Homo sapiens: one gene and its partners. The protein of the gene in region 1 purifies or fractionates together with the protein of each later gene. This does not show direct contact. Each region holds a gene or a part of one and is shown in the gene's direction. Other genes may lie near its edges. The genes, in order: CXADR, GRHPR and CD9.

What was found.
Region 2: the proteins of CXADR (region 1) and GRHPR fractionate together in Homo sapiens (co-fractionation; one large-scale study listed by BioGRID). This does not show direct contact.
Region 3: the proteins of CXADR (region 1) and CD9 purify together in Homo sapiens (co-immunoprecipitation; one large-scale study listed by IntAct). This does not show direct contact.

Annotation. Positions count from the first base shown.
Region 1 is NC_000021.9:17,564,893-17,567,824, forward strand, and holds part of CXADR (coxsackievirus and adenovirus receptor isoform 1 precursor), read left to right. Parts: intron 1-535; coding exon 536-800; 3' UTR 801-2,932. UniProt on the Homo sapiens protein: Component of the epithelial apical junction complex that may function as a homophilic cell adhesion molecule and is essential for tight junction integrity.
Region 2 is NC_000009.12:37,425,664-37,429,316, forward strand, and holds part of GRHPR (glyoxylate reductase/hydroxypyruvate reductase), read left to right. Parts: intron 1-258; coding exon 259-331; intron 332-874; coding exon 875-991; intron 992-2,820; coding exon 2,821-2,909; exon of another isoform or gene 2,910-3,178; coding exon of another isoform or gene 3,179-3,269; intron 3,270-3,653. UniProt on the Homo sapiens protein: Enzyme with hydroxy-pyruvate reductase, glyoxylate reductase and D-glycerate dehydrogenase enzymatic activities. Reduces hydroxypyruvate to D-glycerate, glyoxylate to glycolate, oxidizes D-glycerate to hydroxypyruvate.
Region 3 is NC_000012.12:6,206,747-6,210,399, forward strand, and holds part of CD9 (CD9 antigen), read left to right. Parts: intron 1-3,653. UniProt on the Homo sapiens protein: Integral membrane protein associated with integrins, which regulates different processes, such as sperm-egg fusion, platelet activation and aggregation, and cell adhesion.

The DNA of each region.
Region 1 (2,932 bases):
CCCGGCTAATTTTTGTATTTTTAGTAGAGATGGGGTTTTGCCATATTGGCCAGGCTAGTCTTGAACTCCTGATCTCAAGTGATCTGCCCACCTCAGCTTCCCAAAGTGCTGGGATTACAGGTGTGATTAAGATAGAAATATACCTGTAGGTGTTAGTGTTTTCTCAACTATAAAGTGTTACATGGCTTTAACTAGATTGTCTTGACCAGTGATACTAGAATATGAAACTATTTGAGATTTGTGTTTTGTAAGACAACATTCTAGAATCATCTACATTTGTGTAAATACCATATTTCATTAAGTGTGAAGTTATAACTCTTTAATCAGAATGACAGATTGGAGACATACACAATTTATGACGTTATGGCTTGTGCTTTTTGCTTTTTTGTGACACACACACACACACACACACACACACACACTTTTATATGTTTAGTACCTAAATACAGGCTCTTATCCATGATTCATAGCTTGCATAATTGTAGGTTTTTAGAAACTTATTCTCTTGACATGTATTGGGGATTTTGCTTTGCAGGGAAGATGTGCCACCTCCAAAGAGCCGTACGTCCACTGCCAGAAGCTACATCGGCAGTAATCATTCATCCCTGGGGTCCATGTCTCCTTCCAACATGGAAGGATATTCCAAGACTCAGTATAACCAAGTACCAAGTGAAGACTTTGAACGCACTCCTCAGAGTCCGACTCTCCCACCTGCTAAGGTAGCTGCCCCTAATCTAAGTCGAATGGGTGCGATTCCTGTGATGATTCCAGCACAGAGCAAGGATGGGTCTATAGTATAGAGCCTCCATATGTCTCATCTGTGCTCTCCGTGTTCCTTTCCTTTTTTTGATATATGAAAACCTATTCTGGTCTAAATTGTGTTACTAGCCTCAAAATACATCAAAAAATAAGTTAATCAGGAACTGTACGGAATATATTTTTAAAAATTTTTGTTTGGTTATATCGAAATAGTTACAGGCACTAAAGTTAGTAAAGAAAAGTTTACCATCTGAAAAAGCTGGATTTTCTTTAAGAGGTTGATTATAAAGTTTTCTAAATTTATCAGTACCTAAGTAAGATGTAGCGCTTTGAATATGAAATCATAGGTGAAGACATGGGTGAACTTACTTGCATACCAAGTTGATACTTGAATAACCATCTGAAAGTGGTACTTGATCATTTTTACCATTATTTTTAGGATGTGTATTTCATTTATTTATGGCCCACCAGTCTCCCCCAAATTAGTACAGAAATATCCATGACAAAATTACTTACGTATGTTTGTACTTGGTTTTACAGCTCCTTTGAAAACTCTGTGTTTGGAATATCTCTAAAAACATAGAAAACACTACAGTGGTTTAGAAATTACTAATTTTACTTCTAAGTCATTCATAAACCTTGTCTATGAAATGACTTCTTAAATATTTAGTTGATAGACTGCTACAGGTAATAGGGACTTAGCAAGCTCTTTTATATGCTAAAGGAGCATCTATCAGATTAAGTTAGAACATTTGCTGTCAGCCACATATTGAGATGACACTAGGTGCAATAGCAGGGATAGATTTTGTTGGTGAGTAGTCTCATGCCTTGAGATCTGTGGTGGTCTTCAAAATGGTGGCCAGCCAGATCAAGGATGTAGTATCTCATAGTTCCCAGGTGATATTTTTCTTATTAGAAAAATATTATAACTCATTTGTTGTTTGACACTTATAGATTGAAATTTCCTAATTTATTCTAAATTTTAAGTGGTTCTTTGGTTCCAGTGCTTTATGTTGTTGTTGTTTTTGGATGGTGTTACATATTATATGTTCTAGAAACATGTAATCCTAAATTTACCCTCTTGAATATAATCCCTGGATGATATTTTTTATCATAAATGCAGAATAATCAAATACATTTTAAGCAAGTTAAGTGTCCTCCATCAATTCTGTATTCCAGACTTGGGAGGATGTACAGTTGCTGTTGTGTGATCAAACATGTCTCTGTGTAGTTCCAGCAAATCAAGCTGAGCTTTGAAAAAGTTTGTCTTAGTTTTGTGAAGGTGATTTATTCTTAAAAAAAAAAAAGAAAGAAAAAGAAAAAAAGATAAGAAGGAGGAGTAAAGGGACTACTCCTCCTTGCCAAATGTGCTAAATATCATTTTAGGAGAAGAAAGTGGGTTTATTGTATTTCCCTTAAGATTGTGAGGGAGTGTGGATACAGTAGAATGAGCCAACAGTTTCTTTATAATAAATACGGTCTGCAATAAATTATTTCACTAGCTCTAAAACCTTTCCCTAGATTTTAGTAGGGAGTTGGTTTCTGTTAATATCTTTGGGTGCTGTGGTGGTAAATGCTATATTATGAACGGTGGCATGTATTTACAGTTAGAGTATTGTGTGTACACTTTTTAATGGTAAACTTAAGCTGAATGTGTAATGGATTTGTGTATAGTTTTACATATTTGGAAGCATTTTAAAAACAGGTTTTAACCTTATGTAAAATTACTTTTATACTCGTGTTAACATTTTCATCTGTGCCTTTTGGTAATTTAATTTCTATTATGAATTTCTGGTGCCTATGAGCTAGCTATCACCTACCTGAAAGGTGCTTAGAGGTGAAGGTACTGTTTCTAAAAACACATCACTGTGATACCTTTCTATCCTCACATTTTCAAGCTTGCCTCTTTTCTGTTCTTTGTGGATATAACTTAAGCAATTGTGTTATTCATAAAGGTTTAGAAATTTCAATATTCCCAACACTCTATGTTTCTGATTTTATAACAGTAGCCATTTTTGAAAGTCAGATGTTTGGCCTGTTTTATATGAATAAAGTTTATTTATAAAATATTATAAAAAATAAGTAAATAAACAGAACATTAATAATAAAGTTTTGGTTCTTCCTATTCCTGACTTTCATATAATGAAAATTATCCTATTGATCTAAGTAGAAG
Region 2 (3,653 bases), on another chromosome or scaffold:
GTAAGAGCGGGGCCTTGGTGGCAGAGGCCCTGAGGTGAACCCGGCTCTGCCTGTGACTGAGCCAGGCCACTTAACCTCCCTGAACTGCAGTGTCTGAGGCTGTCAAAGGGGATTATTCAGAGTTTTAACTGAAGAACAGAGATGTCAGCCTCTTATTCTAAGAAAACAATAATAAGCGGTGTCCCCATGATAGTCCCCAGTGCTGTGGCTTTGAGTTCCTCGAGGAAAGATACTAACAATGCACTTTCTGCACAACAGGGGCCAATCTCAAAGTCATCAGCACCATGTCTGTGGGCATCGACCACTTGGCTTTGGATGAAATCAAGAAGCGGTAACTGCAGCTTGGGATCTGGAGGGGGCCTAGAGAGAGGGGTGGCTATGAGAGAAAGAAGAGCTGTTGATTTGTTTTTACTGCATATCCCTCGGCCATTCAGGGAGAATGTGAGGTGGCTGATGATAGAATCTGTCCACATGTGCACAGGTCAGTTACAATAAACCCCAGCAGTCAGAAACAGTGGGTAACTTCTGTGTAGGTGGCACCCTTTCACATTCATTATCTTTTTTGATCCCCACAACAATACCTTGAAGTAGCAAAGGCAGGTGTTATTCTTTCTGTTTCAGATGAGGAAATTCAGAAAGGTTAAGTTACTTGTTCAGTCCCTGAACCCTGATCTTCCATCTTCATATCCTTCCAAAGTGGGAGATAATCTAAATAGGAATGAGGACTGCCCGTTTTTGAGTGCTCATTTATAGTTCTGAGCTTCCTGGCAGGCAGATCAAAGAGGGAGCAAAGTAACTCCATGGAAATGTCCCAGCAGTAGACATTGGTAAATATGGTTGAGGCTGATGTTACCACCAGATGTCTGATTCGTAGTGGGATCCGAGTTGGCTACACCCCAGATGTCCTGACAGATACCACCGCCGAACTCGCAGTCTCCCTGCTACTTACCACCTGCCGCCGGTTGCCGGAGGCCATCGAGGAAGTGAAGAAGTAAGTGAACGCAGACCAGGTGCGGTGGCTCACGGCTGTAATCCCAGCACTTTGGGAGGCCAAAGTGAGCGGATCATGAGGTTAGGAGTTCGAGACCAGTCTGGCCAACATAGTGAAACCCCGTCTCTAGTAAAAATACAAAAAAAATTAGCTGGGTGTGGTGGTGGGTCCCTGTAATCCCAGCTACTTGGGAGGCTGAGGCAGGAGAATCATGTGAACCCAGGAGACAGAGGTTGCAGTGAGCTGAGATCACACCATTGCACTCCAGCCCAGGTGACGGTGTGAGACTCTGTCTCAAAAAAAAAAAGAAAAATAAGTGAACGCCTGGCAGGAACGTTGGCTCTGCTCAGCACTGGATCCTGATCACTGTGCCAGTCCAGCCCACGCATAGTCCCTGACCCCAGGTGTGCCCCATTGAGTGAGGACTCAGCTAAAATAAAGCACAAAGCAGAGCTGCAATAAGGGCAGAAAGGGAAGTGGTGAGAGAAGAGGATGAGGGAGGACAAACAAGTTCTGCTGGTGGGTGAGGGCTGGCAGGGAGAGTGTGGATCAGGGAGGGCTTCACAGAATAAGTAGCAGGTGGGCGTCCGCTTGAGTCCTGAAAGCTGCAGGTCCACCATCCCTTAGATCCCAAAATCTAAAAAGCTCGGACAGCTGAAAGTTCTTTCATACTAACAGGAGACTATTTAAGGCTTTTATTTCTCCCATTTAATGTGACTTTCCTAAGTTTTGCTGCAGATGTAACACTTTTAAAACAGGCTGCTGCCCAGACACTGCAGAGGGTGATGTGTGGAATCTACCACGTGCGCCATGCTGCCTTTCTAAAGGCCAAACAGTTTTAAAATCTAGCCTGAAGGTTTCAGATCAGGGATTTCGGCCTGTATATCAAGAGTTAGAGTTGGCCGGGCACGGTGGCTCACACCTGTAATCCCAGCACTTTGGGAGGCCGAGGCGGGCAGATTGTTTGAGCCTCAGGAGTTGGAGAACAGCTTGGGCAATGTGGCAAAAGTCTGTCTCTACAAAAAATACAAAAATTAGGCAGGCGTGGTGTTACACGCCTGTAGTCCCAACTACTCGGGAGGCTGAGGTGGGAGGATTGCTTGAACCCAGGAGGCAGAGGCTGCAGTGAACCGAGATCATGTCACTGTACTCCAGTCTGGGCGACACAGCAAGACCCTGTCTCCAAAAAAAAAAAAAAAAAAAGTTGGGGGAAGCATTCCATGTGCAGATGGAGGGACTGGCCCGAGTCAAGGTGGGAGGCGTGCAAACGCAGGCTCTCACAGTGCGTGGCCAGCAGCGTGGGCCCCGGCACGGGGCATGGAGCAGAGTAGACAGTGCTGAGTCCTGCTCACTGTCCTGTCTGGGGAGTCATCACATCTACTGGAGGTGGCTCAGGGCAGGCTCCATCTCTTGCCCAGGGCAGCAGGGTGGGCCCTGTGGCTGTACTCTTTGTTGCTGCCCTAAAGTGCCAAGAGAACTTGTTTTGGAATCATAAATCCTGAGTTTGCAGCCTGTTGCTCTCAACTCTTCCCTGGTTGTGTGACCTCAGGCAAGTCACCCTTTCTGGTTTGTTTTCCCATCTGCAAAACAGGATGAGAGCCAGTAAGGCCCCTTCCCGCCCTCAAGTTCTATGTCTCTGGTGGCTTTAAAGGTGGAGTCGTTTCTGCTGCTCATCTGCAGTGCCGAGTGGCAGTGCCTCATCCCACTCTCAGTCCGTGACCTGGAGGGTGGGTTTATACCTTGGACCACAGTCAGAGGTGCCGGGTTCTCAGCGGCCCCCATCTTGGTCCAAGGCTGGGCCTCTCACCTGCCCCTCTCTCTCCCCTCAGTGGTGGCTGGACCTCGTGGAAGCCCCTCTGGCTGTGTGGCTATGGACTCACGCAGAGCACTGTCGGCATCATCGGGCTGGGGCGCATAGGTGAGGCTCCCACCGGCCCGCTTGCCCGCCCCGGCTCTCACAGCGTGGTTTGCATCCCTGGCACCACGTGTCTGAAGGCTGAGAAGACCCACATGCTGTCAGGGCACTTTGCTTGCAGTAGAGATATCTCTAATGAGGGATACAGCTTTGTAAAACACAGGCAAATACATAAATAAACCAAAGCAGGATTCCTTAAGAACTCACCAGGTGATAAAAGCAAGTTGCCTAAGGGTCAGGGGGCTTCATGATTCCGGCTCCATAAAGAACAGATGAAGACTACAAATGTGTTGGGGCCGTTAGGAGTGGTTACCGTGAGAGAGCCCATTCCCCCGACACCTACTCCGGCTTGCGTTCTGGAAGGTATGTGACTCACAAAGCCCTAACTCGGGCCGGAGGGCTCAGTGGGCAGAGTTGATCTGCAGTTCTGCAGATGAGGCAGAGACACTTTTCTTCCAGTGGCCCTTATTTGGAGAAGCCTGGCAGAAGGGCGTGAGCCTAGCCAAGCAGCTATCTATTGGTGGTTCTCTGTCATCCTGCCTGGTGCAGGGGTGCGGGTGAGGGTGGAGAGTGTGGAGAACCTGTCTAGCCAACGAACAGCCCTGCCTCTCACTAGAGAGTTGCTTGGAGGAACCCAACAGCTTTGGGGCACGTTCTGAGCCTGAAAATCCAACTGTACAAATCTGTCTCAGCAGCAGCTTACATGAAAATTGTAAGTTTGGGGTGAGCTGGCAGTTTGGCAGTGCC
Region 3 (3,653 bases), on another chromosome or scaffold:
ACTTAGTTGTGGATAGTTTTAAGTGCTATATCCTGTCATCCTAGACTAATACATCTTAACGTTTTTAGGGAAATTCCTTTTTAGGGAATTCCTTGGAATCAGTACGACCTGCCTCCAGAAAAATGTTATGTCTGTTTCTGGAGGCCCATAGACATTTTTTTTTTTTTTGCCTTTTTCTCCATTGCCCAGGCTGCAGTATAGTGGCACCATCATAGTTCACTGCAGCCTCAAACTCCTGGGCTTTACACAATCCTGGCCTCAGCCTCTCAAGTAGCTGGGACTACAGCACACACCACTATACCCGGCTAATTTTTTTGTACAGAGAGGGTCTCTCTATGTCGCCCAAGCTGGTCTTGAACTCCTGGGCTCAAGCAGTCCTTCAGCCTCGGACTCCCAAAGCACTGGGATCATAAATGTGAGCCACCACGCCCAGCCTGAGCTCACGCTATAAATGCCCCATATTGGTTTTTCTCCCTCAGTTTCCAGACAACCCCTGCTCTGTCCTGAGTCCCATATTTCTGCCATAAGAAGCAGGTTGCCTCACCGTTCCCCGGGGGCTGCAATGGGGGCATCACAGGGGACTTTGTGAAAGGCATTAGAAATGATAAATTCCCTAGTGATCAAGTGCAGCTCAGATGGGACAGCTGGCCTCCCACCCATCCCTCTGACTCTCAGCTTAATCATTGCCTAAGGAGTGGTTTTCACTCGGTTAATTTAATGAGTGCTCTGTATTTCTAGTACACACGAAAAATGCAACTGTATGATCTTCCAGCCAGGTTGGGCCTCTTGGCTTAGCTTTTCCCAGAGCTTGGTGCTTCATCTTTGTTCAGGAAGAAAGGAGGTCTGTCTCTCTTCTCCTTCCCTCCAAATGCAGACGGAAAGTCTCGTCCTCTGAGGACTTGCAGAAAGGAGGAATGTCTCAGGAGGGATCATTTGGGGAGCTGCACTCCCAAGGAGTTGAGAAGCAGCCTGGTTGAGTAACTGGGAAAGGCAAAGCAGCCTGACTTGGAGAGGGGCCCGGATTAATGTGATTCCAGAGGAGGTCCCGGTAGAGAGAAGTTTGGGGACTACTGACTTGGAGAAAAATCAGAAACCCGGGTCTTAAGAGCCCTTCCTCTTCAATCCTTAAGCCAGGCATTGTGCCTGAGGGAAGAAATAGTGGCTCTTATGAGCTCTGCTAGAAAAGTAACCCTTCAGGCCAGGCGCGGTGGCTCACGCCTATAATCCCAGCATTTTGGGAGGCCGAGACAGGCGGATCACCTGAGGTTGGGAGTTTGAGACCAGCCTGGCCAACATGGAAAAACCCCCTCTCTACTAAAAATGCAAAATTAGCCAGTCATGGTGGCAGGTGCCTGTAATCCCAGCTACTTGGGAGGCTGAGGCAGGAGAATTGCTTGAACCTGGGAGGCGGCGGTTGCAGTGAGCTGAAATCGTGCCATTGCACTCCAGCCTGGGCGACAAGAGTGAAACTCCATCTCAAAAAAAAAAAAAAAAGAAAAGAAAAGTAACCCTTCACAGCTTACCCAATGCACATCCAAGTTTCCAGTGACACCTCTGAGCAGGCTAAGCAGCTGGTGGCTCCTGCCAAGCCCTCTCCTCGGAACTGAGCTTCACAGCTTCAGGTGCCAGTCCCTTGCTGACACTCCCAGTCTAAGCTGTGTGTTAGTCTCCAAGTTCAGAAACAACACAATACATGGGTCATAGGAGAAGAACCTCGACTGAGGCTAAAAATACCATAAAGTTAATCAGGCAGTTTTATTAATTATGAATTTATTAATTCAAAACCTATTCAAGGATTTTAGTTTTTTTTGTTTGTTTGTTTGTTTTTGTTCTTTTTTTTTTGAGGTGGAGTTTCACTCTTGTTGCCCAGGCTGGAGTGTAATGGTGCGATCGCAGCTCACCGCAACCTCCGCCTCCTGAGTTCAAGCCATTCTCCTGCCTCAGCCTCCTGAGTAGTTGGGATTACAGGGGTGTGCCACCATGCCCGGCTAATTTTTAGTAGAGACGGGGTTTCTCCATGTTGATCAGGCCGGTCTTGAACTCCTGACCTCAGGTGATCCACCCGCCTCAGCCTCCCAAAGTGCTGGGATTACAGGTGTGTAGTTTAATGTCTTTTAAACCTAAGTTGATTGAATGTAGTATGATAATACAGTGTACTGATTTATTAAAACTCTAAATGAAATGATCAGCAAAATCATACTATTTGTGAACTCATCATTGCTTTTTTTGTTGTTTGTTTTGAGACAGAGTCTCGCTCTGTCACCCAGGCTGGAGTGCAGTGGCGCAATCTTGGCATACTGCAACCTCTGCCTCCCAGGTTCAAGTGATTCTCCCGCCTCAGCCTCCTGAGTAGCTGCGACTACAGGCACATGCCACCACGCCCAGCTAATTTTTGTATTTTTAGTAGAGATGGGATTTCATCATGTTGGCCAGGCTGGTCTCACCTCAGGTGATCCACCCACCTCTGCCTCCCAAAGTGCTGGGATTATAGGCGTGAGCCACCGCACCGGGCTCGTCGTAGCTTTTCAAGTCAATAGAAATCTGGTGTTTGAATCCACATCATGTCTTCCCTTGTAGGTGGGCAGTTGCAGTGTGTAGTGTGCATGCACACCCCAGATTTATGCCCAACTCCACTGGATGTTTTCTGGGTGGGGAGTCATCCATACCTCCCTCAGCGGCCCCGTTCCTAGAGACGGGAGGCCCTTCCCACTAAGACATATTCCTCCTGCTCTCCATGGTGCAATGTAAACATCTTCTTTCTCACAATGTGGGACTGTGGATTTAAATTTATTATTGCTAAGCTCAGATGTTTTAAAGCTTCCTGTCTACAAGCCTGAGAAAATCTCTTCATACTCTCCTTTCCTCCTCTCTAGTCAAATTGTAGCCCTGGCTCCCTAAGACACAACCCTTTAGAGACCCAGACTGCAAATTTCTTTTTTTTTTTTTTTTTTTTTCTGAGATGGAGTCTCATTCTGTTGCCCAGGCTGGAGTGTAGTGGCACAATCTCGGCTCACTGCAACCTCTGCCTCCTGGGTTCAAGCGATTCTCATGCCTCAGCCTCTTGAGTAGCTGGGATTACAGGCATGTACCACCATGCCCGGCTAATTTTTGTGTTTTTAGTAGAGATGGGGTTTTGCCACGTTGACCAGGCTGGTCTCGAACTGCTGACCTCAGGTGATACGCCCACCTCGGCCTTCCAAAGTGCTGGGATTACAGGCGTGAGTCACCGCGCCCAGCTGGGACTGCTCATTTCAAATAGAAATTAGATTATCTTCTAGGATGAGGAGGGACACTTTGGCCTTCTTTGTCATGGGAGGCTGGCACTCTCCTCTAGGACCCTGGGGTGTGTCTTGAGAGCTCGTGCCCAGGGCTATAACACAGAGAGGCCTGTGCTGATGTCATCTTGTTCTGCCCTTTGCTGGCAGGGTGGTTCTGGGGAAGGGCAGAGGCTCCGGGTCCCACTCTGGGGCTGTTTTCACGGGGGATGGAAGGACCATGGCCACTGAACGGGCTGCGGTCCCGTCTATGGACACAATGCCAATGGGCAGCTGCAACAGTGCAGCCAAGGGGAAAGGAGGATGTGCGAGTTGCCCTGGAGAGTCCCTTCCCAGAGCGCCGCCTCTGTCCACCCTGACTATATGACCAGTGGAACC